Linked DNA regions of Homo sapiens: region 1 is linked to region 2. Evidence: fine-mapped expression QTL. A gene starts in region 2. The other region holds a variant in brackets. All regions are shown on one strand. Distances are between the middles of the regions. Region 1 overlaps BORCS8-MEF2B (BORCS8-MEF2B readthrough). Region 2 holds the start of BORCS8 (BLOC-1 related complex subunit 8).

Region 1 (2,973 bases), 27 kb after region 2:
GTTGGCCAAGCTGGTCTCAAACTCCTGATCACAGGTGATCCACCTGCCTTGGCCTCCCAAAGTCCTGGGATTACAGGCGTGAGCCACTGTGGCCAGCCTGTGACCAGCTAATTAAAAAAAAAAATTATAAATATGGGGTCTTGTCATGTTGCCCAGGCTGGTCGTGAATTCCTGTACTCAAGCACTCAGCCCACCTTGGCATCCCAAAGTTCTGGGATTATAGGCGTGAGCCACCGCACCTGGCCCACTTATTTATTTATTTATTTATAGAGACAAGGTCTCCCTATGTTGCCCAAGCTGGTCTCGAACTCCTGGGCTCAAGCCATCAGCCCACCTCGGCCTTCCAAAGTGCTGGGATTAGAGGCATGAGCCACCACGCCCTGCCCTTCTGGAAGATTCAAGGCACAGAGTGGTCTAGAGACAGATGTCTTTCTGTCTTTCCTTGAGTGTTGCAGTCATGGCTCCCTGTGACCTTGAACTCCTGGGCTCAAGCCATCCTGTCACCTCAGTCTCCCGAGTAGCTGGGATTGTAGGGGAGTGCTACCTTGCCTGGCTTTTTTTTTTTTTTTAATTGGAGATGGGGGGGTCTCCCTATGTTGCTCAGGCTGGTCTTGAACTCCTGAGCTCAAATGGTCCTCCTGCCTCGGCCTCCCAAAGTGCTGGGATTACAGGCATGAGCCCAACCAGATGCCATTTTTCTGAGACGACTTAGAAATGTGTCTGGGATCCCTTTTGGGGTCAGGGAACTCGCCCCAGCCCTGGCCCATGATTCCCCATGGGGTGGGCAAGGAAGTTAAATCCCATTTCTCAGCCCCCAAAGGGCCTCTCTGGGGCTGTATCTTGGGGACTTGTGTGGTTACCCTGATACCCTGCGGCCCAGGATTGAGTTTCTTGGACCCTGTGACGGTGATTCTGGGCTGGACAAGCCCAGGCCCACTTCCCAGCCTGGGTGGGGGTGGTGAGATTGAGGTGCCACGTGATGGCCCTGGGGTACAAGCCCAGGATTGGGTGGGGATCTGGAGGTCTCACCATGTGGCCCTGGAAGAAGCCTGCCCACTCCTGTGCAAAACAGGGCAACTATCGCTGCTTCCCTGGGGTGTCTGGGGGTCAGGCAGGTCTTATATGTAAATGAGGCGGGGTGTGGGCCCGGGCAGACAGTAAGGGCTCAATAACAGAAGGTCCCATCTGGGCTGTGACCAAGTGGAGGTGTTTGTGAGCCCATCCAGGCCCCTTTCCTCTCTGCCCTCTGCCAGGTGCTGTTTCCCTCCAAGCCCAGTTTCACCCAAGGTCAAGGTGGGGCCTGAGGAAGGGAGAAATGGAGGTGGATTGTAATAAGAGTCATGGCTGCTGTGGGCATGGGCCTGCCTTGCCCACTGTTCCAACCTGTGGCCTGTGCCTGGTCCAAGCCCTACCATCCCTGGCTGGATGCTGGCCTGGCTTCCTGCTCCAACAGGCCACAGGGTCTTCTGAAAATTCCAAATCAGACCACAGTCCTCCCCCTCCTCACACACCTTCCATGGCTCCCTATTGCTCTACAGTCCACCCTCTCTCTGTCCCCCAATGCCTCTCTGACCTTCTCTGTCTCTGGCCACTCCTGGCTCACTCCACCCCAGATG[T/C]GTGGGGTTTGCCTGCTCCTGGAAGCCACCTGTTTAGCACAGTCCCACCTCAGGGCCTTTGCACCTGCCATTGTGTCCACCTGGCTCCCACCTCCCTGAGACACCTCAGAGACAGGGTCTTGCTCTGTCACCCAGGCTGGAGTGCAGTGGTGCGATCTCGGCTCACTGCAATCTCCGCCTCCCGGGTTCAAGCAATTCTCATACCTCAGCCTCCTGAGTAGCCGGGATTACAGGTGTGGTACCCTCCTGGATCCTCTGTCCAAAGCAGCTCTCTCCCTGCCACCCTCCACTGCCTCCCCCTGTTGAATTTCTTCCTTGAAGGCCGTCTTCCCAGATACGGTTATGTGGCTGCTGTTGCCTCCCCCATCAGACTGGGTGATGGGGGGAGGCCTTGCTCTGCCCACCCCCTGCTCCTGCATCCCCAGCACCTGAGGGGCTCCTAGACATTTCTGCGGGAAGATATTGGGGACTGACAGTGTCCTAAAGCCCCATCTCGGGGTCCCTGCTGGCTGCATCTTCGGGCTGCCGGGCTGTGGGCAGGGTCCCTTCTGCCCAGCGCTGACAGATGTGCTAATTTCCCAAGCAGGGAGGCTGGGGCATCTGGGGATCCATTTCTGAGGCCCCGCAGGGAGAGCTTTCTCTGGAACAAAGAGAGGAAAACCTTGGGCTGTCCCTGCAGCCACTACTGTGGCTTAGGGGACATCACTAGGGGCCTGAGAGGGCCTTAGACTCTAGCCTGCATGGGACAGCAGGGTCAAATTCAGACTGCGGGGTCTGTCTTGGCTCCATGGGCTGGGTGACCTCTGACTCCTGGGTTCAAGTGATTCTCCTGCCTCAGCCTCCTGAGTAGCTGGGATTACAGGCGCCCGCCATCATGCCCGGCTAATTTTTGTATTTTCAGTAGAGATGGGGTTTCACTATGTTGGCCAGGCTGGTCTCAAACTCCTGACCTCAAGTGATCTGCCCACCTCGGTCTCCCAAAGTAGTGGGATTACAGGCGTGAGCCACCGCACCCGGCCTGGAACAGGCCTTCTTGGCAGGTGAGGGTGCCTGTGCCAGGTCAGGTTTGCCATGGATGGTCACCTGGACGTGGTTTTCTCCCAAGCTGGGCAGTGGGACCTTCAGAGGGCCAGTTCCTTGGCCTGAGAGGAGCATCAGCACTGTCCAATTGGCTGTTTTGCTGTGAAGGTTGTTTAGAGGAAGGGCCACAAACTGGCAGCCTGTGGGCTGGATGGGGCCTTAAATTTGTTGTGTGGACCATGAGGTGTTTCAGTGAGAAGTGAACAAGTAGGGCCGGGCTCACGGCTGTAATCCCAGCACTTTGGGAGGCTGAGGTGGGTGGATCACCTGAAGGTCA
Region 2 (2,760 bases):
ACCAAAGCACCTACAATGTGCAATGTTTAAGAGCCTGGGCTCTGGCAGGGCACAGTGGCTCACGGCTGTAATCCCAGCACTTTGGGAGGCCGAGGAGGGTGGATCATGAGGTCAGGAGTTCGAGACCAGGCTGGCCACCATGGTGAAACCCCATCTGTACTAAAAATACAAAAATTAGCCAAGCGCGGTGGCGGGCGCCTGTGATCCCAGCTACTCGGGAGGCTGAGGCAGAATTGCTTGAACTCGGGAGGTGGAGGTTGCGGTGAGCAGAGATCGCACCACTGCACTGTAGCTGGGGCGACAGAGCAAGACTCTGTCTCAAAAAAAAAAAAAAAAAAAAAAAAGAAAGGAAAAAAAAGCCGGGGCTCTGGGGTCAGCTGTCTGGGTTCGAATCCCTCAATTTATAGGCCGTGAGAACTTGGGCACGTGACTTAACCTTTGAGCCTCAGTTTCCTCCACGACAAAATGTGGAAATGAGACCTACAACGAATTATGTCTGTACATAGCTTATCGGGGGATCTGCTAAGCGTGGAGCTCAATAAATATTCGCTATGGTTGTTGGGAGGGGCTCCCCATAATGAGTGACGGCTCAACAAAGGTGCGATTGGTCCCAGTCCCACCCGAGCCTCCTAAATCGATCCAGGAGGTCCACTCACCTCCCCACGAGCCTCCTCTGTCCCCCCGCGCCGAAAGCCCAGTTCTCTCAAAACTTGGGGGCCCAAGTCACAAACTTTTCTCTTCCAATGGATATAGCAGGAGGCAAACTGGAGACCGGACCCTCAGCGATCTGGCTTCCTCTGCCGGGACAGAAAGCAACTTGATACTCGACCGCTACCCCCACCCCAGAGCTCCCCCACTGCGCTTGCGCACCCCCGCCCCCCAAAAGTGAGGAAGGGCCCGGGCAGTAAGTGCTGCCTCTGGCCCTTTAAGACTTAGGGGAGGGCGTGGGTTCCGCTGGGGTCCTGGGAGGGCAGTTGCGCCTGCGCCTTCTTTTCCCCTCCTCACCGACTCGGAGGGAATGGGCGGGGCCTAAAGGGCTCTGAGAATTTCACTACGCCTGCGCCCGCTCACCTTTACCCTGCCCACAGATTTTTCCAGAGGGAGCCAATTGGCTCCGGCTTCGGGTAGATGGGCGGGGCTATCTCAAGAAGAAGAAGTAGGGGAAGTACGCGGGGCGTCTGGAACTTAAAGGGGCAGCGTACCTTGGCCGTCCCGTTCCACAACAAGGTCCCTTCTGCGGTCTCAAAGGCTTATAAGCAAGGGCGGGGGCAGAGGGCTAAAGAAGGGAGTTTTTGCGGCCCGAGTGGGTAATGCGTGGAGGACTCCCCCAACTCGTCTCTCAAGGAAAAGGGGGTTCAGAAAGGGAGAGAGTTCTTCCCCCTCTCCTGCCTGGGTGTCGCTCCACCAGCCTCCTGGCCGTCGCGCCCCCTCCTCACTGCGCCACCCCCGGGTGTGCCTCCTTCCCTGCGTCTCACACAGCCCCTTTCTTGTCCGCAAAGACTGAGGAGCGGGGAGGGCGGGCCCTCTGACACCGGAACAGGAGCCGTGCGGCGTCCGGTTTCAGCAGGGAAGGCTTAGGCGGGCGTCCCAACCTCCGGGCTTCCGGTGCCGTTTCCCGGTTCGCTCGGCCGCGGTCGCTATGGAGGAGCCGGAGATGCAGCTCAAGGGGAAGAAAGGTGGTGCGGGCCTGCGGGCGGGACAGAGGGGGCCGGTAACTTGTGGAGGGGCGGCCTGACAAAGGCCGGGCGCGGAGGGACCGTGCGAGGAGCAGTGATTGAACTGCCGTCCAATCCCAGCTCTGCCGCTGACTAGTTTTGAAACCTGTAGAAAGGCTCCGTGTCTGCTTTAATTACCGGTCCCCCCAGGATTGTTTCAAGAATTCAGTAGCTGAGGCTGGGAGTGGTGGCTTTGTAATCCCAGCACTTTGGGAGGCCTAGGCGGGAGGATCGCTTGAGCCCGAGACCAGCCTAGGTGACATAGTGAGATCTCGTCTCTAAAAAAATACAAAAATTAGCCGGGCGTGGTGGCGCACGCCTGTGGTCCCAGCTACTTGGGCGGCTAAGGTGGGAGGATTGCTTGAGCCCGGGAGGTCAAGGCTGCACTGCAGTGGGCTACGGTCGTGCCACTGCACCCCCAGCCTGGGTGACAAGTGAGACCCTGTCTAAAAAAAAAAAACTCAACAACCTGATATTTGTAATGCATTGGAAGAATCCCCGGGGCGTAGTAATCGCTGTGCGTCTTGTTTCCTTTTTTTTTTTTTTTTTTGAGACAAGGTATCACACTGTCGCCCAGGCTGGGGTGCGGTGGCGCGATCATGGCTCACTGTAGCCTCGATCTCTCTGGCGCGGGCGATCCTCTTGCCTCAGCTTCTCCAGTAGCTGGGACTACAAGTGCACACCACCACATCAGGCTAATTCTTTAATTTTTTTTTTTTTTGACGGAGTCTCGCTCTGTCACCCAGGCTGGAGTGCCGTGGGGGGATCTCAGCTCACTGCAACCTCAGCCCCCTGAGTAGCTAGGATTACAGGCACACACCCCCATGCCCAGCTAATTTTTTTGTATTTTTAGTAGAGACGGGGTTTCACCTTGTTGCTCAGGCTAGTCTCGAACTCCTGACCTCGAGTGATCCACCCACCTTGGCCTCCCAAAGTGCTGGGATTACAGGTGTGAACCACTGCACCCAGCTAATCCCCTATACTTTAAATCACCCTAGATTACTCACATCTAGAATACATAATACAGGCCTACACATCACTTCAT

Evidence for each region. PIP is the estimated chance that this variant, and not a neighbour inherited with it, causes the effect.
Region 1: its variant is fine-mapped to the expression of BORCS8 in cerebellar hemisphere (GTEx, PIP 0.97).

What each region holds. Positions count from the first base shown.
Region 1 is chr19:19,164,194-19,167,166 of GRCh38, reverse strand. The region is part of intron 5 of BORCS8-MEF2B (BORCS8-MEF2B readthrough); the gene reads left to right. All of the region lies in intron 1 of MEF2B (myocyte enhancer factor 2B), which reads left to right. Among named protein-coding and RNA genes, the nearest start is that of MEF2B, 4.6 kb to the left of the region's middle. The variant T/C (reference allele first, on the strand shown) is at 1,617.
Region 2 is chr19:19,190,997-19,193,756 of GRCh38, reverse strand. It overlaps BORCS8 (BLOC-1 related complex subunit 8), which reads left to right and starts at 1,605. Exons shown (of 6, transcript NM_001145784.2): 1 at 1,605-1,676. The coding sequence starts at 1,640. It overlaps BORCS8-MEF2B (BORCS8-MEF2B readthrough), which reads left to right and starts at 1,605. Exons shown (of 12, transcript NR_027308.2): 1 at 1,605-1,676. It overlaps RFXANK (regulatory factor X associated ankyrin containing protein), which reads right to left and starts at 1,499. Exons shown (of 10, transcript NM_003721.4): 1 at 1,203-1,499; 2 at 657-797. RefSeq lists an enhancer at 633-722.